5 separate regions of the Homo sapiens genome follow, and regions 2, 3, 4 and 5 are each linked to region 1. Evidence: fine-mapped expression QTL. A gene starts in region 1. Each other region holds a variant in brackets. All regions are shown on one strand. Distances are from middle to middle.

The links. PIP is the estimated chance that this variant, and not a neighbour inherited with it, causes the effect. A credible set is the group of variants that fine-mapping cannot tell apart.
Region 2: its variant is the best candidate, but not a certain one, in a credible set for the expression of LRRCC1 in blood mononuclear cells (TOPMed, PIP 0.67).
Region 3: its variant is the best candidate, but not a certain one, in a credible set for the expression of LRRCC1 in prefrontal cortex (GTEx, PIP 0.65).
Region 4: its variant is the best candidate, but not a certain one, in a credible set for the expression of LRRCC1 in left ventricle (GTEx, PIP 0.70).
Region 5: its variant is the best candidate, but not a certain one, in a credible set for the expression of LRRCC1 in whole blood (INTERVAL, PIP 0.55).

The regions. Positions count from the first base shown.
Region 1 is chr8:85,104,733-85,109,841 of GRCh38, forward strand. It overlaps LRRCC1 (leucine rich repeat and coiled-coil centrosomal protein 1), which reads left to right and starts at 2,506. Exons shown (of 19, transcript NM_033402.5): 1 at 2,506-2,667; 2 at 4,863-5,068. The coding sequence starts at 2,564. It overlaps LOC105375933 (a long non-coding RNA gene), which reads right to left and starts at 3,130. Exons shown (of 3, transcript XR_929117.3): 1 at 2,827-3,130. RefSeq lists an enhancer at 2,618-2,677.
Region 2 is chr8:85,154,338-85,159,446 of GRCh38, forward strand. No RefSeq gene overlaps it. Among named protein-coding and RNA genes, the nearest start is that of E2F5-DT, 20 kb to the right of the region's middle. The variant A/G (reference allele first, on the strand shown) is at 2,833.
Region 3 is chr8:85,197,963-85,203,071 of GRCh38, forward strand. E2F5 (E2F transcription factor 5) reads left to right here. Exons shown (of 8, transcript NM_001951.4): 2 at 4,185-4,294. Among named protein-coding and RNA genes, the nearest start is that of RBIS, 20 kb to the right of the region's middle. RefSeq lists a silencer at 2,638-2,697. The variant G/A (reference allele first, on the strand shown) is at 2,215.
Region 4 is chr8:85,248,546-85,253,654 of GRCh38, forward strand. It overlaps CA13 (carbonic anhydrase 13), which reads left to right. Exons shown (of 7, transcript NM_198584.3): 2 at 2,195-2,392. Among named protein-coding and RNA genes, the nearest start is that of CA13, 5.6 kb to the left of the region's middle. The variant G/A (reference allele first, on the strand shown) is at 2,513.
Region 5 is chr8:85,037,295-85,042,403 of GRCh38, forward strand. No RefSeq gene overlaps it. Among named protein-coding and RNA genes, the nearest start is that of LRRCC1, 67 kb to the right of the region's middle. The variant C/T (reference allele first, on the strand shown) is at 2,000.

The sequences.
Region 1 (5,109 bases):
GTCTTTACAAGTGTGATGAGTTTCTTCTAAGCAGACTATTGTTGGGTCATTTTTTAATCCATTAATTCAAGCTATATCTTCCAGGTGGAAAATTTATTCCATTTGCATAAGGTCATGATTGATACGTGAGGGCTTATTCCTGTCATTTTATTAATCCATTTCTGGTTATTTTTGTGTATTCCTTGTTCCTTTCCTTCTCTATCATTGTTTATGATTGTGGTTTGGTGGTTTTCTGTAATGGTAACATTTGAGTCCTTTCTCTTTCTTGTGTGTTTGATCTACCAGTGGACTTTATATTTTTGTGTGTTTTCATGCTGGTAAATATTGTCCTTTTGTTTCCATATGTAAGACTCTCATGAGCATTTTTATAGGTCCAGTCGACTGGTGATGAATTCTTTTGCTTTTGCTTATCTTGGAAAGACTTTATTTTTCCTTGGTTTATGAAGGATAACTTTGTTGAGTACTTGGCTGGCTGTTTTTTCTTTCAGCACTTTGAATTTATCATACCATTCTCTGCCGGCTTGTAAAGTTTTTGGTGAGAAATCCACTGTTAGTTTGTTGAGGGTTCCCTTATAAATGACTAGATGTTTTTCTCTTGCTGTTTTTAGAATTCTTTGTCTTTGACTTTTATCAGTTTGACTACAATGGGCCATAAAGGAGACTTTTTCTTTTCTTTTCTTTTTTGCGAAAGAAGACATGCAAGCAGCCAAGAAACATATTTTTAAATGCTCAACATCACTAATAATCAGAGAGATGTAAATCAAAACTATAATAAGATATCATCTCACAGCAGTCAGAGTGGGTTTTATTAAAAAGTCAGAAAATATGAGATGTTAGTGAGGTTGCAGAGAAAAAGTAATGCTTACACACCATCAGTGGGAATGCAAATTGCAGCCACTGTGGAAAGCAGTTTGGAGATTTCACAAAGAACTAAAAATAGAATTACCGTTCAATCCAGGAATCCCATGACCAGGTATCTAGCCAAAGAAAAATAAATTGTTTTACCAAAAAGACACCCGCATTCATATGTTTATTGCAGCACAGTAGCAAAGGCATGGAATGAGCCCTGATGCCCATCAATGATAGACTGGATAAAGAAAATGTGGCACATATACACCAACATGCAGCCATAAAAAAGAACAAAATCATGTCCTTTGCAGCAATATGGATGCAGCTGAAGGTCATTATCCTAAGTGAATTAACACAGAAACAGAAAACCAAATACCATATGTTCTCACTTCCAAGTGGCAGCTAAACACTGGATACACATGAACACAAAGATGGGAACAATAGACACTGGGGACTCCAAAAGGGGGAAGGCAAGAGTTGAATAACTACCTATCAAGCGCTATATTTACTATTTGGGTTACAGGATCATTAGAAGCCACAACCTCAGCATCGTGCAATATACTTATGTAACAAACCTGCACATGTACCCCCGAATCTAAAATAAAAAGTGAGATGAAATTTTTTTTAAAAGAAAACCTTTTTGCATTGTATCTGTTTGGGAACCTTTGGCCTCCTGTGCCTGGGTGTCTAAATCTCTTGCTAGACTTGGGAAGTTTTCATATAGTATTTTGTTGAACCATTTTTCCAACTCTATTGTTTTCTCTTTGCCTTCTGAGACTCCAAAATTTTGAATATTTGGTCACTTTATGGTGTCCTACATGTCATGTGGGTTTTGCTCATTTTTTAAAACATCTTTTTTATTTTTGTCTATATGAGTTATTTCAAAAGGAAATAGTCCACTTCAAATGGACTACTGCACCATTTGCTCCGTTTTAAAATATTACTATGCCTTAGGAAGCAATCTAGCCAGGAGGGTTATTTGACCTCACACAGGTATTGCTTTCCCACCTGTAATGCCATTCATCCAGAACTCCCCCTAACCCAGCAAGACTCTATTCAGTCATCAATCACTTCTTTTAGAAAACGTACCCACTACCCATATCACTCTAGAGTTGGTTTCGATGCCCTTGTGTTATTCTTAGCATTCGTCATACTGTATGGCAATTCTGTTTCCTCTATGGGGCTGCGAATGTTTCCAGGAACAAGAATAGGCTTCATCTTTTTCTTCCTCATACAGGGAAGTGACTGACATACAGTAAGGCATCCCACAAATTGTTCAATGAATCAACAGGAGGTGCAATGGCCAGAGGAACAATTTATACGTATGTAAGGCTATGTAAAGGCACGTAAAGCCAAACCGCTGTGAAAACCGCCTTCAGAAGTCAGTCGGCTACTAGGCAAATATACAGAAGCACACAGGACAAATCCATTCATTCTCCAGCTCCTACACGCCCGGGAAGCAGTTTTACTTTACAGCAAGTTCAAGAGTCGCACCGCAGATGCTGTAAAAACGAAAGAAGCCCACAGTTGGGACGAGGATTCCAGTTTTGCGTCACCGTCAAGGCGGGAAAGTTCCCGGCTGTCGGTTGGAGGGTGGGTCCTCGCCCCGCCCCGCCCCCTCGGGCCGCCCTTCCGCGCTTCCGGGAGGCTTGTCCCAAGCTCACGGACCCCTCGCTGGGTGCCGGTTAAGACCCCGCTCCCCGTCGCCAGTGCTATGGAGGCGGCGGCGGCGGTGGTGGCGGCAGAGGCGGAAGTGGAAAACGAAGACGGCGACAGCAGCTGCGGGGATGTATGCTTCATGGACAAAGGCTTGCAGAGGTAAAGGGCGCTCCGCAGCCAGGAGCGACCCGCGCACTCCCCAGAGCCGGGGCCACGAGTGGCTGGCGGCGACACCAGAGTGGAGGCGCGGCACTGCTTTACCAAGACCATAAGTGAACGCAGTCTGGCTTTCGGCCTCCCCGCTCCTCCAAAACTTACCTGCCGAAGTGCCAGGTTGAATGAGCCGTGGATGCCTTCCCGCCCGTGTCTCCTGCCCAGCGTTTCACACGACTCTGCTTAGCCTAGAAACTGCCCCAGGACCTTGTCCTCCACCAGCTTCTGACCACTCTTTCCTTCTGCTGGTTTTCCTTACTTACTGGTGGTTATTCCTTTGCTTGCCGTTTAATTGCTGGTTTTCTCGTGTTCTCTCGTCTTTCCTGTTCTTACCTCTGAAAAAAACCTGCAGGATAGTATCTCTGGCAGCTATGAGCGGGCAGTCGCTGCTGCCTGTTAGTTTTGCCTCAGTTCTCCTTGTCTGCATTCGAAATCATTTGTCCGTTACAGAACATTGCAATACATATATTCATATACTTTTTGAAAGTACTAAACTTACTATATTTAGTTCATCGTTTCCCTCTCTCTTGAAGCCCTGACTTGTGCAAAGCATATGAGGCACTTGGTTCTGTAATACTGTAAAGCAGGTCTCCACCTGCATTTCAGGCTCTTTAGTCTCGACCCGTAACATTTCTCCACTTACACTTTATTTACCTGTACTGAGCTACAGGCAATTCCATAGCAGACTTCTCTGTGCCTTTGCACATGCTGTTCCTTTGTAGCGTGTCCTCTACGCGAACTCTGCTACTGATAATTAAGCATCTTGTTCTGGATTCTGATTTAAACTTTGCCAGATGATCCCAAGAAGATGCTGTTCAAGGGACATTTTACATTTCTATTTAATACTAGCTGCCATTTACTGAATGCTATCTGTTGTGTGCATGTTATATACATTATCAGTAATCCTCACAGCAATTCTACAAGGTAGTAATTTTTCTCATTTACAAGTGATGAATGAGACTCAGAATCTATTGACAATTTGTTCATCTTTATACACTTCATGAAGAATTAAGTTCGGATTCAAACCCATTTTCCGTCTAATTTCACTATGCTTTTTCTATCTCACATTATCTGCACATTATTAATGTCGAGAAACTGAAATGTGTCAGAAAGTAAATGACTGTCATTAAGAGCATGTGTTAACAGCATAAGGTCTGGCACTAAATAAGAACTCAAGTAAATGACACAGCAGGATAAGTGGGAAATGCCCCAGATAGTCACATTTAAAGGTTGCTAGTTTGAAATTTGCAAATGCTTCCCTGCTGTCAGAGTTAGGTTTCCTACAGCTGTAAGATAGCTGCTACTCAACCTACAGCAGATGCCCGTGACATTGTGTGTTCCTGGGTGTATCTCCCATCTAGCAACTCCAAACTGTGTATGCTGTAGTTTGTGTTCCTGGAACTACTATCTTCAGGAGAAGCTTCAGTTATAAATAGTAATTGGAGTGAAGAGATGAGTTCTGTTTAGGGGAGATCCATTAACTTTCAACAAGGGAGGACAGGGACTTTTTCAATAGGAATTGCAATAACATGGTTTGTTTTTGAAAATGCAATAGACTGTGGATTAAATAGCTATTGCACACAAAGAAGAAAATAAAGTTATAATCTCCAGCATGAGATCTGGATTTACATATGCTCTGTTAGCTGCAAGAATTTGGGCAAGCTATTTAATTTCCATAAATTTAGGTATCCTTAAGATACCCACTGCTTAGAGTTATTGTGAGAATTAATTGAGGTAAGAAAACTGAGGCTCAGGTTGTCATTTGCTCAAATCACACAGCAAAACCGTGATAGAATGCAGATTCAAACTGGGATATTAACATTCCAAAGCCTTTACAGTTATTGACTACTATTCAGCACTGCCTTCAATATATGCTGATGACTGCACACAGGAGTTAGAAATGCCCACTGTCACTTGCCTGCCTTGAGCGGTTTCTTGTTTGTATAAATAATCCAAAATACTTGGTTGTGTTGTAAGAAGCACCGTGTTTTGTGAGACATTTCAAAGGTACCACAAATAGGAAAGATTTCATTCTAGAATGAATAGAGCACATATTTAGTATCTACGTGCTGTTTGGTTAATTTTAGTTATTTGGTCATGCTTTTAAAATCTATTTTTATAGTATATATTTTCTTTTATAGCATATCAGAATTATCTTTAGATTCAACTCTTCATGCCGTCAATCTTCATTGCAATAACATCTCCAAGATCGAAGCCATTGATCATATTTGGAATTTACAACATCTAGATCTGTCATCTAATCAAATAAGTAGAATTGAAGGACTAAACACACTGACAAAACTGTGCACATTAAATTTGTCCTGCAATTTGATTACAAAAGTAGAAGGTTTGTAAGTGATTTTCATTTAACACTTAGCGTAAGGAAAA
Region 2 (5,109 bases), 50 kb after region 1:
AAATCGACACCCTAATATCACAATTAAAAGAACTAGAGAAGCAAGAGCAAACACATTCAAAAGCTAGCAGAAGGCAAGAAATAACTAAGATCACAGCAGAACTGACGGAGTTAGAGAAACAAAAAAACCTTCAAAAAATCAATGAATCCAGGAGTTGATTTTTTGAAAAGATCAACAAAATAGACTGCTAGCGAGACTAACAAAGAAGAAAAGAGAGAAGAACCAAATAGACACAATAAAAAATAAAGGGGATATCACCACTGATCCCACAGAAATACAAACTACCATCAGAGATTATAGTATAAACACCTCTATGCAAATAAACTAGAAAATCTAGAAGAAATGGATAAATTCCTGGACACATACACCCTCCCAAGCCTAATCAAGAAGAAGTTGAATCTCTGAATAGACCAATAACAAGTTCTGAAAGTGAGGCAATAATTACTAGCCTACCAACCAAAAAAAAGTCCAGGACCAGATGGATTCACAGCCAAATTCTACCAGAGGTACGAAGAAGAGCTGGTACCATTCCTTCTGAAACAATTTCAATCTCTATTAAAAGAGGGAATTGTCCCTAACACATTTTATGAGGCTAGAATCATCCTGATATCAAAGCCTGGTAGAGACACAACAAAAAAAGAGAATTTTAGGCCAATATCCCTGATGAACATCAATGTGAAAATCCCCAATAAAGTACTGGCAAACTGAATCCAGCAGCACATCAGAAAGCTTATCCACCACAATCAAGTTGGCTTCATCCATGGGATGCAAGACTGGTACAACATATGCAAATCAATAAACGTAATCCATCACATAAACAGAACCAACGACAAAAACCACATGATTATCTCAATAGATGCAGAAAAGGCCTTCGACAAAATTCAACAGCCCTTCATGCTAAAAAGTCTCAATAAATTAGGTATTGATGGGACATATCTCAAAATAATAAGAGCTATCTATGACAAACCCACAGCCAATATCATACTGAATGGGCAAAAACTAGAAGCATTCCCTTTGCGAACTGGCACAAGACAGGGATGCCCTCTCTCACCACTCCTATTCAACATAGTGTTGGAACTTCCGGCCAGGGCAATCAGACAGGAGAAAGAAATAAAGGGCATTCAATTAGGAAAAGAGGAAGTCAAATAGTCTCTGTTTGCAGATGACATGATTATATATTTATAAAACCCCATCATCTCAGCCAAAATCTCCTTAAGCTGATAAGCAACTTCAGCGAAGTCTCAGGATACAAAGTCAATGTGCAAAAATCACAAGCATTCCTATACACCAATAATAGACAAACAGAGCACCAAATCATGAGTGAATTCCCACTCACAATTGCCACTAAGAGAATAAAATACCTAGGAATACAACTTACAAGGGATGTGAAGGACCTCTTCAAGGAGAACTATAAACCACTGCTCAACAAAATAAAAGAGGACACAAACAAATGGAAGAACATTCCATGCTCATGGAAAGGAAGAATCAATATTGTGAAAATGGCCATACTGCGCAAGGTAATTTATAGATTGAATGCTGTCGCCATCAAGCTACCATTGACTTTCTTCACAGAATTGGGAAAAGCTAAAGTTCATATGGAACCAAAAAAGAGCCCGCATTGCCAAGACAATCCTAAGCAAAAAGGACAAAGCTGGAGGCATCAGACTACCTGACTTCAAACTATACTACAAGGCTACAGGAACCAAAACAGCATGGTACTGGTACCAAAACAGATATATAGACCAATGGAACAGAACAGAGGCCTCAGAAATAACACCACACATCTACAACTATCTGATCTTTGACAAACCTGACAAAAACCAGAAATGGGGAAAGGATTCCCTATTTAATAAATGGTGCTGGGAAATCTGGCTAGCCATATGTAGAAAGCTAAAACTGGATCCCTTCCTTACACCATATACAAAAATTAACTCAAGGTGGATTGAAGACTTAAATGTAAGACCTAACACCATAAAACCCTAGAAGAAAACCTAGGCAATACCATTCAGGACATACACATGGGCAAAGACTTCATGACTAAAATACCAATAGCAATGGCAACAAAAGCCAAAATTGACACATGGGATCTAATTAAACTAAAGAGCTTCTGCACAGCAAAGGAAACTATCATCAGAATGAACAGGCAGCCTACAGAATTGGAGAAAATCTTTGCAATCTACCATATGACAAAGGGCTCATATCCAGGATCTACAAAGAACTTAGACGAATTTACAAGAAAAAACAACCCCATCAAAAAGTGGGCAAAGGATATGAACAGACACTTCTCAAAAGAGGACATTTATGCAGCCAACAAACATATGAAAAAATGCTCATCTTCACTGGTCATTAAAGAAATGCAAATCAAACCACAATGAGATACCATCTCACAGCAGTTACAATGGTGATCATTAAAAAGTCAGGAAACAATAGATGCTGGAGAGGATGTGGAGGAATAGGAAGGCTTTTACACTGTTGGTAGGAGTGTAAATGAGTTCAACCATTGTGGAAGACAGTGTGGCAATTCCTCAAGGATCTAGAACTAGAAATACCATTTGACCCAGCAATCCTATTACTGGCTATATACCCAAAGGAGTATAAATCATTCTATGATAAAGACACATGCACACGTATGTTTGCTGCGGCACTATTCACAATAGCAAAGACTTGGAACCAACCCAAATGTCCATCAATGATAGACTGGATTAAGAATATGTGGCACATATACACCATGGAATACTATGCAGCCATAAAAAGGATGAGTTCATGTCCTTTGCAGGTACATGGATGAAGCTGGAAACCATCATTCTCAGCAAACTATCACAAAGACAGAAA[A/G]CCAAACACCACATGTTCTCACTCATATGTGGGAGTTGAGCAATGAGAATACATGGACACAGGCTGGGGAACATCACACACCAGGGCCTATTGGGGAGTGGGGGCCTGGGAGAGGGATAGCATTAGGAGAAATACCTAATGTAAGTGTCGAGTTGATAGGTGCAGCAAACTAACATGGCACATGTATACCTATGTAACAAACCTGCACATTGTGCACATGTACCCTAGAACTTAAAGTGTAATAATTTTTTTTAAAAAAGGCACAGAGTGGCAACTTGGATAAAGAAGAAAGACCCATCAGTATGCTATCTTCAAGACCCCCATCTTACATGCAATGACACCCATAGGCTCACAAAAGGACAGAGAAAAATCTACCAAGCAAATGGAAAACAGAAAAGAACCAAGTGTTGTTATCATAATTTCAGACAAAACAGACTTTAAACCAGCAAAGATCAAAAAGGACAATGACGATACATGATGGTGTAAAGTTCAGTTCAATAAGACCTAACAATCCTAAATATATTTGCCTACAATACAGGAGCACCCAGATTCGATAAAATTCAACTTCCCATCAGTAAAAGCCCTCAACAAACTAGACATTGAAGGAACATACTTCAAAATAATGAGAGCCATCTATGACAAACCCACAGCCAACATCATATTGAATGGGCAAAACCTGGAAACATTCCCCTTGAAAATCGGAACAAAACAAGGACACCCTCTCTCACCACTTCTATTCAACATAGTACTGGAAGTGCTAGCCACAGCAATCAAACAAGAGAAAGAAATAAAGGGCATCCAAATAGGAATGGAGGAAGTCAAACTATCCCTGTTTGAAGATGATATGATTCTTTACCTAGAAAACCCTATAGTCTCTGCCCAAAAGCTTCTTAATCTGATACTTCACCAAAGTTTCAGGATACAAAATCAATGTACAAAAATCAGTAGCATTGCTATACACCAACAACATCCAAGCTGAGAGCCAAATTAAGAATGCAATCCCATTCACAATAGCCACAAAAAGAATGAACTGCCTAGGAATACAGCTAATCAGGGAGGTGAAACATCTCTATAATGAGAATTACAAAACACTCTTCTAAGAAATCAGAGATGACACAAACAAATGGAAAAACATTCCATGTACATGGATGGGAAGAATCAATAATGTCAAAACAGTTATACTGCCCAAAGCAATTTATAGATTCAATGTTATTCCTATTAAACTACCAATGTATTCTTCACAGAATTTAAAAAGGCTATTTTAAAATTCATATGGAACCAAGAGCCCAAATATCCAAGGCAATCCTAAGCAAAAATAACAAAGCTAGAGGCATCACATTACCTGACTTCAAACTATATTACAAAGCTACAGTAACCAAAACAGCATAATACTTGTATAAAAACAGACATATAGGCCAATGGAACAGAATATAGAGCCCAGGAATAATTCTGCACACCTACAACCATCTGATCTTTGACAAAGTTAACAGAAACAAGCAATGAGGAAAGGACTCCCTATTCAATAAATGGTGCTGGGATAACTAGTTAGCCATATGCAGAAGAGTGAAACTGTACCCTTTCCTGACACCATATAAAAAAATCAACTGGTCTGGGTGTGGTGGCTCACACCTGTAATCTTAGCACTTTGGGAGGTCAAGGTGGGCAGATCACTTGAGGTCAGGAGTTCCAGATCAGCCTGGCCAACATGATGAAACCCCCTCTCTACTAAAAACACAAAAATTAGCTGGGCGTGGTGATGCACACCTATAGTCCCAGCTACTCAGGAGGCTGAAGCATGATAATTGCTTGAACCCGGGAGGCAGAGGTTGCAGTGAGCCAAGACTGCGCCACTGCACTCCAGCCTGGGTGACAGAGTGAGACTCTGTCTCAAAAAAATTATATAAAACAAAATGAAAATAAATAAATAAATAAAAGGCAATAGTAAGTGTTGACAATGATGTAGTAATAGGAATCCTCATACACTGCTAGTGGGAATATACAATGGTGCAGCCACTTTGGAAAACATTCTGGCAGTTCAGCAGAAGGTTAAACATAGAGTTGTTATATAATCCAGTAATTCCATCCCTAGTTACATACTCAGGAGAAATGAAAATTTTGTCCACCCAAAAACCTGTACGCAAATGTTAACAAGAGCATTATTCAAAAGATCCAAAAGGTGGAAACAATCCAAATATCCATCATGTGATGAATGGATAAATAAAATGTGGTATATCCATACAATGGAATATTATTTGGCAATAAAAAGAAATGAATACT
Region 3 (5,109 bases), 93 kb after region 1:
ATTGTCTTGCTTTTTTATATGAATATTTTGTACTTTCTTCTCTCCTCTCAACCATTAATAGCTCCTTTCCTTTCTCCCCGATCCCAGTGCTGATGAGAGAATAAAAATCAACCAGAAGGAAATGTCTAACCTTTCTCCCTACCTGGTCTACTAATGTACCTATATCTGTACCCAGGTACTCTGCTGGACTTCAGTTATTAATATGCCCTGTTATTATCTAAGGACAGTCCTCACTTATTGAATTCACATCCTGCCTTCCCTACTTATTGCCACCTCTAGCAGTCATCCCTTCTCTCTTCTGCATTGTTAATGATTCCTCTTTCTTTACCAGATCATTCCTATCAGCATACTCACATGTTGAAATAGCTCCCATCTTTAAAAGGAAAAAAAAAAACTTCCTGGAGACCCCACAGTTCCCTAAAAATATTGCCCCATTTCTTCTTACCTCTTTGCAGCAGAACTCTTCAAGAGTTGTCTATTCTAGCTTTCTTTCCATTCTTTCTTGAAATTTCTCCATTAAGACTTTCAGCCCCACCTCTCTGCCAAAACAGCTCTGATCAAAGTCACCCATGATCTTTCCAAAGGCAAATCACTGATCAGTTCTCACTAACTTGCTCTGACAGCAATACTTGATATGGTCACACTTTCTTACACTCTCTTCCCTTGGATTCCAAGACCCCACACTTTCTGATTTTCTTCTGACTTCAGTGGCAGGTTGCTCCCTCATTTCCTGGACCTTAAACTTCCCCAGAGTTGGTTCTTAACCTTCCCTTATATGCTCACCTCCTATGTCAAACTAGTGGATTCCATCTTGTGGTATAAACTGTCTATTCGCTGAAGACTACTGAATTTATATCTCTAGCTTGGATCTCTCCCCTAAGCACACACTCTCGTGTCCAGTGGTCTTGCTTTCTCCCTGTGGATGTCAGAAGGTTCAAGGCCAGTTTCTTTATTTCCAGTGCTCCAAACTGGTTCCTTCTGTAGTATACCTTATTTGTAATTGCTCTTATCAAAAACTGAAGTCATTTCTGATTCCTCTCTAGGGACCTGCTGCTTGCCATACCTTCAAAATATATCCAGAATGTTAACATTTTTCACCATCTTCATAGCTACCCCTCCATCCAAGCCACTACCATCTCCTGCATGGATTATTGCCATCGCCATCTTGTTGGTCTCCTTTCCTGTCTTTATCTCCTTTTTCCATTTTCCCTCTCATTATTCTGCCACACTGGCCTGCCTGCCTCTCCTTGAAGAAGCTAAGCACCCCTCACACTTCAGAACCTTCGTGCTTGCTGCTTCCTCTGCCCAGAATGCTCTACCACCAAACATTCACAGGGGTCTCCTACTCCATTCAAATGTTCAGATGTCACCTTGTCAGAGAGCTCTTTCCCTGAAAATCCTATTTGATATAGCACCTTCCTCTTGCCTGCATTCTCTCCAAACATAATTATTTGTATATTATTAACTTCCCTCTCTTCTTTGAGGGCAGGGACTTTGTTCTGTCACATCTATATCTTTAAGACCCAGAACCAAGCCTGGAACATTTTGGTGTTAAATGAATGGAGGAAGGTAGTGGTGATAGTGGTGGTGGTGGTGGTGGTGGAGATTCATGGTATTATTCTGTTAGATATTAAAGCCCCAAATTAGTTTTTAAAGAATTCACACACAACTTTTTCAAACACTATATAAAACAAGGTAAATCTGTATACACACAAACTTTAACCAATCTTAAACACAGTCTTACCCACGATCCGTTTCAACCTGTATTTGATGATGAGGCTGACTAGCCAACATTTAAGTAATCACTATACAGTAGACATTGCGGTAAGATTATCCAGTTTAATTCCCACAATACTCCTTTCAGTATATGTTATACCATTTTATGAAAAAGGAAATGAGGCTTAGTGAGCTTACGATGAGGCCAGCTGAAGATAGGAAGTGGCAGCCCTGGGACTGGATCTCAGTGTGTTTAGCTTCAGAACTTCTTAAGAATGATGGGACTGGCTGGGTGCCATGGCTCACACTTGTAATCTCAGCACTTTGGGAGGTCGAGGTGGGTGGATCATCTGGGGTCAGGAGCTCAAGACCAGCCTGGCCAACATGGTGAAACCTCGTCTCTACTAAAAATACAAAAATTAGCCAGTCGTGGTGGTACACACCTGTAGTCCCAGCTACTTGGGAGGCTGAGGCAGGAGAATCAGTTGAACCCAGGTG[G/A]TGGAGGTTGCAGTGAGCCAAGATCACACCACTGCACTCCAGCTTCGGCAAGAGAGGGAGACTCTGTCTCAAAAAAAAAAAAGAATGATGGGACTTTCTAAAATAAAACCCTCCTGGAGATTCTTTTACATATGATCTGTACATGTTAGTCATTTATATGTTTACATACTTAAATAGTAAAGTATTTGAGAAATAATGTTTAGTTTTAGAAACTAGGGGTTAAATGTTGTGATTGTTAAGCAGTAATAAATATAAATGATAAACAAGACACCTTTTTAAAACTTTGAGCTAAAAATTAAATCTCATGGCACTTTGCCTAATGACCTAAGCTAGATCTTGTGGTCTGGTTCATACAAACATGTTCTGATACCAAAACCAGAGTGCTGTTGCTATGGCTGTGAATGCTTTTCTGTGTGAGTACATAGATACCAGTAACACAGAGCCATGGCTTGGAGTTCTCTGAGTTACTTCTCTAGAGAGAGGAAAGTGAGAAATGAAACCTCAGCTTCAGATTTGTACCGTTAACTTTGCAGTCGTGTATTGCTCTTCATAAAAACAGCCTCGAAGTCAAGAGTAAAAATTCTGTGAAGGTCGATAAAACAAGAAGGGAATTGCTAAGTACAAGGGAAGAAGGTATCAATGAAACAAACCATGGCTAGTCCTGCTGTTAATTTTCTGGTTCTCTAGAAGGGACAGTGCCAAGTTAGAGTTGGGGAACAAAGAGCCCCACTCTCCTGCTTTTCCTTCTTCTGCCACATCCTGCTTATTCTCCTGGTCCACTGAGGCATGAATCCCCTTCTTGAGGAAGACCTGAATGATGGGACAGCAGTAACCTGGGGGTTTTGGTGGCACATACAAAAAAATGTGTCTGAGAGAACTGACATTTCTCTTAAGATCCCAAATGCCTGTACAGTGAATATAGCTGTCAGTGGCACCTTCTCTGGGGGGAAGGCAGGTCCAGATTGCAAACACTGTGCTGAGCTAGGTTTTCACAGAATCAAGAAAGTAGTGATGCTCTCTGGGAGAGCTGTTAGCAATTATGCGAAGCTGGGAGAGCTGTTAGCAATTATGTGAAGCTAAATCCTGTTCATTTAGATATTTTAGATAATGTGCTGAAAATTGTCAGTAGAGACACAAATATTTGTAACTACCATGGATCTTAAAATGTGGCTCCACATTCAAAATAGGCTATTGTCTAATCCACTCTGAAAACTTCTTTGAGGTTCTCTTTGTTCTTTTGGGAACACACATCAAAAATGTGAATTGGAACTAATCAGAGGAATTGTTTGTTGAATTCATAACATGATAGCATATATTGTTTTGTTGATCTTATCTAATGTGAATGCAGCTACCAAGTTTTTGTATAATAGTTGCTAGTGCAATCTTGAGCTATTGATTCTGATTTCTTGCTGATTTTATGCTTTGTGTTAGGATGGCATGATTCATTCCTCTGTTTTCGTTATTAATTTAAAAATGTAGATATTTATTTCAAGGTATTATAAGTGTGCATATAGTTCAGAATTTCCAAGTGTCTTAATTACCAAAATAAATTGCTGAGATGTAATTCTTTAAAATTTTAAAAAATAAGTAATGCATCTTTAGATGAGACTGTTTATGAACAGAGAAATAAGATAGGAGGTGACATGGATAGGCAATTAGTAGCTCCTCCTCAGGATTAGTCCATAAGGTGACACAAAGTATTCTTATTGTGTTCTTTTATTTTTGCAGGCTTTGTGTCATGACCTTAATTTCTTTTTCTGTTCCAACATCTGCTAGCTTTTAAATGGAATAATTTCTTTGGTATTTGCAGTGTTTGGGAGATGCTTTGAACATGCTCAGCTATTGTCCCCAAGCAACTGAGTGGGTCAAATTTGAGATTGGACTTGTTGTGGATTTAATAATCAACCCTTTTTGGCTTTAAAATATGACTTGCCCTTTATTTCACTGTTCTCGTTGTCTTTCCTGAACAGGCTGCTGATACTTTGGCTGTGAGGCAAAAAAGGAGAATTTATGATATCACCAATGTCTTAGAGGGAATTGACTTGATTGAAAAAAAGTCAAAAAACAGTATCCAGTGGAAGTAAGTTACAAACCAGCACCCTCTTCTGAAACCTTTTTTCTTCTCAGTGCTCTGTAAAATTTGACCTTCCCAATGTTTCTATCTCCCAAATCCTCTATTTCAGTCAGGCCCCTCAGCTTTCCCTGAACACACCTTTCTGGGCCTCTGTGTCACTCCTGTGTTGGGTGTTCCCTTGCTCTCTTGGATATTGGGTTTTCGCTCTTAAAATTCAAATCTTACTTTCTCCCTCAAGCTATTACTCATTTGGCACACATTGCATACTGTCTTGTATTAATCTCTTCCTAACTCTTTACCTGTCCTTGAGAGCAAGAACTACTTTCATAGGAATTTGTACTTTGTAAATAGTAATTAATTGAAACGCATGTTGTCATTAATTGTGGCCTGGTTATACGTTTGAATGTAACAATTTCTGTTCTTCTAATGTGTCCCCTTTGACCATAGTTTTTGTCTTGTTTTGTTTTCGCCAAAATTCCACCAAAACATTAAAATGTTGTAATTTATTTTACCAGCACCTCAGTCACATCCTGAGACTGCTAGGTGTGACTGCTGAGCACACTCTTTTGGTACCCAGTCACCAACCAGTCTGGCCTTCCAGATGACAAAAAAACACTGTAGGGAAGATTGAGAATTTTTGTAATTTGGTTGTTCTTGTCAATAAATTTTCTAAGCAAGAAGTATGGTGTTTAAAATTTTTAAGGATTTTAGTGCTTGATTTTAAGAGTGTAAAGACTTCTGTCTTGAATATATTACTAAATAAGTCAGTTTTATTACAGTAAAAATTAAGTGATATTAACCTAGATCTGATACTGAGGATA
Region 4 (5,109 bases), 140 kb after region 1:
GGCCAGGAGTTCCAGACTAGCCTGCAGGGTCATGGGGGGGACAAGGAGAAGGAGGAGAGGAGGAAATTTTTTTTGGAAAAATTGAAAAAGGGGACCTCTTTAAGAGGCAGGGTACTGAACTGACTATGGTAGTTAGTAGATAATATTGGGAATGTGATACAAACAATTATTACTTTTATTTTATTTTGGTTTGACTTCTTTTTAAAATAGTTCTGTTTATAAATGACTGGAAATAGGAGAGCAAAGCAATTAGGAGAAGAAAGCAACTCTATTGATTGGAAGAATGTCACCTGCATATTGTAACACATGCATTGCGCATTTGAAATTGAATTTTCGTTAGGTTAACTCTTACTTGGTGGCAGTGAAATAGAAGGCTTTTTCTGAATTAAGGGGGAAAAAAGTCTAGGTTATATATAGAAAAAGTACTCAGAAAGATGGTGAAAGTATTGAATAAAAAAGGCTTTTTCTGTAATACATTCTAAGCAAGGACTTCTGATGCTCAAGTGGCTTTGAAGTCCAGTTTGTCAGATGACATCTTTTAAGCTGAGTGTATAGTTATATATTTATGCTATGACTTTTTGTGCCTGAAGCATATATGAAAGAATGTATGTATGTGTGAGTTCTCTTTTGCAAAAATGAGGCATAGTAAGCAGTATCAGATTTAGAGTTTGGGCCAGGCGTGGTGGCTCATGCCTGTAATCCCAACACTTCAGGAAGCTGAGACATGCGGATCACTTGAGCCCATGAGTTTGAGACCAGCCTGTAGTGAGACTTTCAACAAAAAAAAGTTTTTTATAAAAGTAGCTGGGTGTGGTGGTGCACACCTGTACTCTTAGCTACTTGGGAGGCTGAGGTGGAAGGATTGTTTGAGTTTGGGAAGTTGAGGCTGCAGTGAGCTGAGATTACACCTCTGCATTCCAGCCTGGGTAACAGAGCAAGACCCTGTCTCAAAAAAAAAAAAAAAAGATTTAGAATTTTATGCTTTAAAGTTTGTTGATGATTGTGATATATTGCATTTCTTTAAATATTACTCTAAATTTTATCATTTTAAAATGTTTTTGGTTGTCGTTAGTAACAGGTTTAATTAATTGTCATGCTATGATGTTTTAATTAGTACTTGATTTTTAGTGAAAGATTGGTTAGCAAAGTAGGTGGGTAAACCTTAGTCAGTAGCCCAGTGTAGGTGGTGATAGCTGTATAAATTTCAGGAATAGTAGAGAGAATAAGAACCTATAACCTATAAAGTGACTCACATCTGTAGAATGACATGGAACTTACGTGAAACTACAGCTTTGCTGCTGATTTTGAGAGGCAAGACTTTATAGAGTCTTCCAAAGAAGTGAAGAGGATTGAAAAGGGAACTGTTAGCTGATTGGCTCGTTTCAATTTCCCTAACATGTCTGATTTGTGAACTTGATACGATTTTGACGTTTTTGAGTAGAGGACCAGGATGATACCTTTCTCTTGTGTTGAAATTCAAATGTAACATTGGCAAAATAACCATAGAAGAACCTTCTGAAATGAAGAAAGAGAGAAATAAATTACAATCTGACTCTACTGCAGATAATCAACAATATTACGTTTCCTGACGTGGTGCAGCCATTTTATTTGGATTATCCTAGGTGAAAAATTTGTGTGTTTCCTTGGTATGCCTGTTGCACATCACAGGTAATTGAGTGGAGGCCTGAGTGACACTAGACGATAGCATTGAGTGATAGAAGGAAGAATAAAGAAGTAAGCACAGCATCTTTAAGAATGACACCCTTTCTTTGCTTCATGGCTTTCTCAGCTTTTTTGACTCTTCCAATCTGCAAACTTGAACTCTGGAGCAATAGCTCATTTTTGGAGCTGAGACTGAATGTCATTGTTTTCAATGATGAGTTGTATTATTGTTTTTAGTTTGGTAGAAGGTTACCTTTGGAGAGTATTTTATAAAATTTACAGACTCTTGTCTACAAGGGTTACTTTAATTCTGAACATGACTTAAGGCACACCAAGAGTTTCCCACATCTATAATAAAAACAACTAATCTTGTAAAAAAAAACAATTAGATGCCAAGGTCCTGAGGACGAGAATCTCATTTTATTAATCTTTGCGTTTTCTTCAATTTCAAGCACAGTGTGTTATACTCAATGTATGTTTGTTGAAAGAAAGAACTTATTTAATCCTTTTCTTTTGGTCCTATATATTTAAGGTCCTATTCACTGGAAGGAATTTTTCCCTATTGCTGATGGTGATCAGCAATCTCCAATTGAGATTAAAACCAAAGAAGTGAAATATGACTCTTCCCTCCGACCACTTAGTATCAAGTATGACCCAAGCTCAGCTAAAATCATCAGCAACAGCGGCCATTCCTTCAATGTTGACTTTGATGACACAGAGAACAAATCAGGTTGGCTTTTCTTTTTTTGTGTGTGTGGTGGTGGATGAAGGGTTTGAATGATTAGACTATACTCTTTTTTTTTTTTTTTTTTTGAGACAGAGTCTCGCTCTGTCGCCAGGCTGAAGTGTA[G/A]TGGCGCGATCTTGGCTTATTGCAACCTCCGCCTCCTAAGTTCAAGAGATTCTCCTGCCTCAGCCTCCCGAGTAACTGGGATTACAGGCGCACGCCACTATACCCAGCTACTTTTTTTGTATTTTTAGTAGAGACAGGGTTTCACCATGTTGGCCAGGATGGTCTTGATCTCCTGACCTCGTGATCCGCCTGCCTCGGCCTCCCAAAGTGCTGGGATTACAGGCGTGAGCCACCGCACCCAGAATACACTCTCTAATCTTTCATGTTTTGTTTTTGCTAGACCTGGAATTTGTCAAATTGAAGCATATTTTTCTTCGTGTGAATTAAGATATCTTGTTATATATTTGAACCTTCAGATAATCTTACCTTAAAATAATAAAGAGTATTTGGAAAAGGATATGTTGCATGATAATTTAAAATTGACCTTAGCTTGTTATTATAACTTCACTTAGCATTTACCATTATAAAAATATTAAAGTTTAATAGTTTTTATAGATATTTCATGATTTGTTTCTGCAAAGTTTTAGCCGTAATTATTTTAGCATTATTTGCAAACCTATAATGCCATTTAAGTACCTGCTTTAATAGAAAAAGTTTAGTTTAAAAAAAACTTATTCTCTTATTTTAATTGCCAAAGTAATATCCACTCATAGTAAATGAAACAATATGGAAACATATAACAAATATTAATGTCTCTTTCTTCCCACAGTCTCTCCTGAAGTAACTAATGTTATTTCTTCCATAATATTTCGGTGCTTAGTTATGTATACATACATGTGTATCATCCTTGTTTTGCATTTTCTTATTAAAAATACATTTGGAATAATGCTATATAACTCTGAATTTTTTTCTTGTTTAAAAATATTTTATAGACATCTTTCCAGATTAAAATATATCTTGTTTAAAAAGCTAAACTGCAGCCGGGTGTGGTGGCTCACATGTATAATCCCAGCACTTTGGGAGGCTGAGGTGGGAGGATTGCTTATGTCTAGGAGTTCAAGACCAGCTTGGGCAACATAGTGAGAACTTATCTCTACAAAAAATAAAAAATTAATCAGGCATGGTGGGGTGTGCCTTTACTCCCAGCTACTCTGGAGGCTGAGGCAGGAGGATTGCTTGACTTCAGGAGGTCAAGGCTGCAATGAGCCATGATAGTGCCACTGTACTCAGCCTGGGTGACAGAGCAAGATCCTGTCTCAAAAGATAAAAATAAAAGTAAAATAATTTTAAAAGTTGAATTGTATTAGCTATGCTTGTATCGTAATTTATGTACCATTCTCCTAACAATGGACATTGAAGGGAGGGAAAGTAGAAGTTTAATTTTTTTAAAAAAATAAATATATGAAACTTTTTTACTGTATATTCCCTATTAGTACTTTTTTCTAGAACACGTAATCATTTCGTTTAATGATTAGTTCTTGGGATAGTGTCTTTCACACCATGAATAAATAATGGACTTATAGATTATTTGTTAATTTATTAAATAAGTGATGAAAAAACATTTTCTTGAAGTGAATGTTTAATCCTTCTTCAGACTATCTACTGCCCAAGCAGAGATTCTGCCCAAGGTATCAAGTTTAAATGTAAGATGAGATAAAATATTAGAGAGAATCATATTTGGAAACACTTTTTAGGGCCTCTGACAGATTGTTTTTATTTTTAATCTAAGATCAGGATGATGCTGTATTTGCTCTATTAATGAAAAAATATAGTTAATTTTTAAAAATCCTTAATTGAAAGAAAGTTTTTACTTATTAATTGAGCCCAGATTTAGATTAGTAGTAATATCTTGTATTTATGTAAAGCCTTATTGTTAGCAAAAATTATAAGCCCAACCACATTTCTTCTTCATATTTGTCAAATTCATAAAAGTAGTAAGTTTTTTTTTCTTTTCTTTTTTTTTTTGAGACAGAGTTTCACTCTTGTTGCCCAGGCTGGAGTGCAATGGCACAGTCTCGGCTCACCGCAACCTCTGCCTTCCGGGTTCAAGCGATTCTCCTGCCTCCGCCTCCCAAGTAGCTGGGATTACAGGCATGTGCCACCATGCCTGGCTAATTTTGTATTTTTAGTAGAGACAGGGTTTCTCCATGTTAATCAGGCTGGTTTCGAACTCCCGACCTCAGGTGATCCGCCCGCCTCGGCCTCCCAAAGTGCTGGGATTACAGGCGTGAGCCACTGCGCCCAGCCTTTTTTTCTTATTTATTTATTTATTTATTTATTTTTTTGAGACAAGGTCTCGCTCCATTGCCTAGGCTGGAGTGCAGTGGTGCAATCATGGCTCACTGCAGCCTTGACCTCCTGGGCTCAAGCAATCCTCCTGCCTCAGCCTCCTGAGTAGCTGGGACCACAGGCATGTGCTCCCATGCCCAGCTAATTTTTGTATTTTTCATAGAGAAAAGGTTTTGCCATATTGCCCAGGCTGATCTTGAACTACTGGGCTCAAGGGATCTGCCCGCCTCGGTCTCCCAAAGTGCTGGGAGCCACCACACTGGCCTAAGTAGTACATTTTCATCAAAGCATTGTAAAAAATGCATAAAGACAAATAAATACATGGTATTTTCAACTTTTCGGAGGAAATGCCAAGTAAGGAGGGACCT
Region 5 (5,109 bases), 67 kb before region 1:
AAGTCCACTTCCCAGGAAACCCCTTAGTCCAGGGCAAACAGGGATGATTGGTAACCATAATTGTGTATCAATGGAGTGTTGCTGCCATCATGTAAGTTTGTATCTTACTGAGATTGAGGACAAAAATTTATAATACTTTTTAGGAGGAAACTTAACAGGAGTTAATCAGAAATGGATAAATAGATTGCTGATCAAAAGTGATGGACCATTTTATTAGACAACAGGAATCTGCAATATCAATCATCAGGGTCTCCTCTGCACAGGTTTATGCTCAGCAGCCCAGGAGCATCAACTGAGAAAGCAAATGAACGGTTCTTGCAGTGCAGGTGGTCTTTCACTCCTGAATCCCATCTGTCTGGCTTCCCTGCAGGCCACTTCAAAGGACCTCCTCTCACAAGACCACTTGTGACATCCCTATTATTAAGTCCTAATTATCACTTCTGACATCTTGTTGCTTTGTAAGCTTCCCATTTCATGAAATCTCTATGCCATTTGTCACAGTTGTCCACTCCCTCCTGTGAAAATTTTGCTTTCCTAATTTTTTACATATTTGGCCTATAATTATGCCTACATTTGCCTTCCGTAAGGGTTAACCAACTTCACTTTTCATTTTATTGTCTATTTTGTCTATTCCAGAGTTAAGTCCTCTCCAACTATTACTTCTTTATCCAGGACAAATAAAATTCGACAAGTCTGAAACCAAATTTATTATTTATCTTAAAACCCATTGTACTGTATTACCTGTTCAGCACCATGATTCACTCAAAGCCCAAGCCAGAAACCTAGGAATCGTCAATTCATCCTACCTTCTCTTCCTACGATATTAACTTGATCACTGGATTCTTTTCAATTAACTTGCCTTACATCGTTCATGTCTTTCCCTTTCTTACTGGTACTGCCACAGTTCATTCTTTGTAACTTCTCAGTTGGATTGCCATGGGCAAGAGCCTGAGCAAGGATTGAAGTGCTGACACTTAAGTTAGAAGGTACAAGGTAGGAAAGGTGAAGATGAACCAAAAAAAAGCAGCGGGGCAAGGAAAGACTTGAAACGCATGCTACATGGCCCTGCTGGCCAGCATTTTAAACAAACTGCAAAGAAACACATCACATCTCTCAGCAGTGCGCTAGTTCAGCAAGGAGGACTTTCTGAATGGTTGCAAGAAAAAGCCATACCTTATAGGAAAGAAAAAAGGAGAGGGAATTTATAGGCTTGGTTTCCTTCTTCCTCCCACTTCTCATTGACCAAATTCCATCCTGCTGGGCTGCAAGTCTCCACAGACCAGGTTGTATCATCGAGCTACCTGATTTATCATTTGATCCATGTCTGGAGGTTTGGGGTGACTCAGCATGGACAGAGATAAACATGGTGGGGCAAGGGAAAACGTAAGAGCCACAGAGGCCCAAGGCTGAATTTAGATTTCAGCCACTTGTCAAGATTTTAATTTGGGCAAGCTAAGGAGTTCTTTTAGGCTTCTAGTACATGATACATATAGATTGCTAAGATTGTTTTCAAATTGAGAAAAAATTGTCTTTCTTGTATCTATGAACCAGATTTCTTTTATCTATGAACTAGAATATGTTGAAGAATGTCCTGCAGGCAAATTTCTGGCCCTGAACATTTCTCACTTGTTCCTCCTCACTCTCTTCCTTCTGGTATTGACACCATGGACACATTCTTATCACAGTATGATTCCAGGCCCTACATCTTCATTTCTTGATGTCAGTGAGTTGATGCAATGAGTGATAGCTTTTGTGGAAGTTATTCAGCGATACCAGCGAAAATTTAACTATGCACGGAAGTGACTATGAACCACGTAAGATTCCACTAAAATCAAATTAAAAGAATCCCAGGTCACGTTCCCAAAATTGCCTGTGACCATTCCAACACTACCTCACATGAGAAGTGTAACAGAGGTGAGTCAGAGTGGAAAGAGACAGCTCTTTTAGCCAATCGTGATTAAAATATCTTACTGTGGCAAATTTTTCAAAAACATAACCT[C/T]CTAAACACATCAATAGAGCCTCTCATCAGATTATGCAATTGAGAGGCCCTGAAGCTTCATTACCTTATCCACAAATCTGCACCAGTGCACCAGGTTTGTGGCCAATACTTGGAGCAAGGCTGCCTTTTGTACACACAGAGAGCTTAGAGTTTGGCAATATTAAAAGTCTTTTGATTCCTAAAAGCACCTCATTCTTTCATGCCTTTATGCATCATGCTTCCTCTGTCTCATGAAAGCTCTCCTTATCCTGGCTTCTTGTTCATCTAGTTTATTTTTCCTTCTCTATGAAGTTTTCCCCGATCCCTCCAAACACAACTCACCTCTTTGTGCCCCTCAAGCACCTAATGTCTACCATTATTTCTGCGTGTATTGATTCAATCATCAAAAGTGTATTGAGCAACTCCTATGTGCCTGATATATTGCCAAGATATGGCAGTAAACAGAAGAGACAAAGTCCCTGGCCTCACGGAGCTTACCTTCTAGTGGATGGATGTAGACAATAATCAAATATGTAAGTAAATGTGTAATATGGAAAGCTGTGATTTCTCAAAGAAAGAGAGATTTTTAAATTCTGGCTATTTTATAAATGTCCATCAGAATATAACTCAAAGGCAGTGAAGTTTGAAATTATTTGATATCTGAGTGAAGAGGTTTCCATGGGGAAGGAATAACAAGTACGAAGGCCCTGAGGTAGAAAGATGTTTGATGAATATGTGGCTGATAGGCTTTGGGTTCAAGGCATAACAAAGAGGCTGGAGCTGTTGAAGGAAAATGAGAGAGGAGGAGAGTATGAAAATATAGAGTCAGAGAGATGACCAAGCAGGTCCTTGAAGTCCTGCAGACATTGCAAAGAGCTTGGCTGTTGCTCTGAGTTTGGAAGCCATGGCAGGGGGCTGAAGCAACTGACTCACAATTTAAAATGATCACTCTGTTGAAAATCAACTGTGGCTACAAAAGCAAAATTTATAGCTTATTTATCTTTGAGTTAAGGGTAGAGAGAGAATATTATTTTAAAGCTGGCAGCAGTTGCTTAGAAAGAAAATGTTTGTTCAAAACGAAAGCCCTCAGGACATGGACAAATGCGCTAAAATAGACATAGAGAAAACAGAATTGTTTTGCATAATAGAGTTAGAGAAAGGTTGAGCTCTGGGCCCTGTGTGAGCAGGACATTAACGAATAGGGAGTCTTTGGAGGGAGTGGGACATCCCCAAAGCAGGAAATCAGGAGATTCAGGAATAAAGTAAGCTGTTGAGAAATTCCCTGTAGTGAGAAGAGAAACTCTTATGAAGAAAAATGTGAAATATCCAATTTTAGATAATCTAACCCATTTTTCAATAATACAGCAAATCCTTCCAAATCCTCAAAAAATAAAAAGTCTAATACATACAAATGTCTTATGTGAATAGTGTTTGCAGGAAATGAAGGGAAAAGGACTGTACCATTTGGGGCTGGCTTGAGTGGAGAGAAGAGATCAGGAACAGAGGATAAGATATGAGTACAACCAACTCAGGGGAGGTAAAAACAGAAGCAAGAGAGGACCACAGAGGCATTTTCATGAGAGAGATGCTGGGTATCTCATCATGGTAGGGAGGGAAGAGTTCAAGATGTTATTATTTAAATGGTAATGGTAATGGTCTCAATGGAAGAGTAACGGCCCAATGCTGGAGTGGATGGAAGCTGACAATAATTCAATGTAACCACCAGGGTTATGTTGGTATGCACAGTGTGCTGTGCACAATGATAAAGGGTGGGAATGAATGGTAAATCAATTGATGTCAAGGAATAAAATTCATTAAGAAATGAATTTTGAAATAGCTAACCACAATTTTTTGCTCAGTACTGATAATATTAGATCTAATATGTGCATTTACAGTCTTGCACCACATAACAAATTTCAGTCAATGATGGACAACATATAAGATGGTAGTTCCATAAGATTAAATACAGTATTTTTATTTTATCTTTTCTATATTTAGATACACAAATTCCATCCTGTTACAATTGCCTACAGTATTCAGTAATATGCTGTACAAGCTTGTAGCCTAGAAGCAATAGGCTCTACCATATAGCCTAGGCCTGTAGTAAGCTATACCATCTAGGTTTGTGTAAGCACACTCTATGATGTTTGAACAATGATGAAATCACCTAACTGCATTTCTCAGAATGTGTTCTCATCATTAAGTGATGCGTGATTGTATGTATCAGCTTTACAGTTCCATTATGCTTTTACTTTTTAAGCTAACATTTATTTTGAGCTTACTATGTTCCAAATCCTGTATTAAGTGCTTGATAACTCTATGATATAGTTATCATAACTACCCGACTTTAAATATCAGAACACAAAGTCTCAGGTAAAGTAACTTGCTCAATGAGGTAAAACTGGGTGGGACAGAGGCAGGATTTGAATTCAGGCTGCAGATTCTGAGAGTCCTTGCTGTTAACAATGACTCTGTATACCTCTCTTTCATGCGTCATGCATACATCATTACATCTCAGCTCACAAACATGCCATTAATTCAAAACAGGAAAGAACTGAATCTGTTTGGGGAAAAGTTCCTGTTAGATACTAAAATGTGCAATTGGAGAATATGCAAATTCTGTCAAAAAATGAACAAATGTTTACATTGGAGGAACCGTTAATATTGTAAAACAGAATAGAAATAGAGAAGGTGGCCCTGAACCATAGAATTAAAAATAGGAAAAAAGAAAACTAGAGTCATCAGAGTTTTGATGATATACATTTTCTAAACAAGAAGCTGCATGATTTCAATATAGCTGCTTGACTACACATCAGCCTAAATTAGACACTAACACTCTTAAATATAGTTATAGTTAAAATAGTCTGGACACAAAGGAACTGAAGACTGTACAGTTCATGCAACAAATAAGAAGAGTTTTAATCAATATATCTTGACTAAAGGAGTGTGTGTGTGTCTGTGTGTGTGTGTGTGTGTGTCCTTATGGCTGCTTTGAACATAAATTCAAAATGGTGACTCAGCCATCTTGGCCTTGTGGAAGACTTACAATCGCTACGATCGCAGTGTACATGATTAGATAATCAGGAAAGGGACAAACTGTCAAGAAAAGATTTAAAAAGGAGATCCCTGAG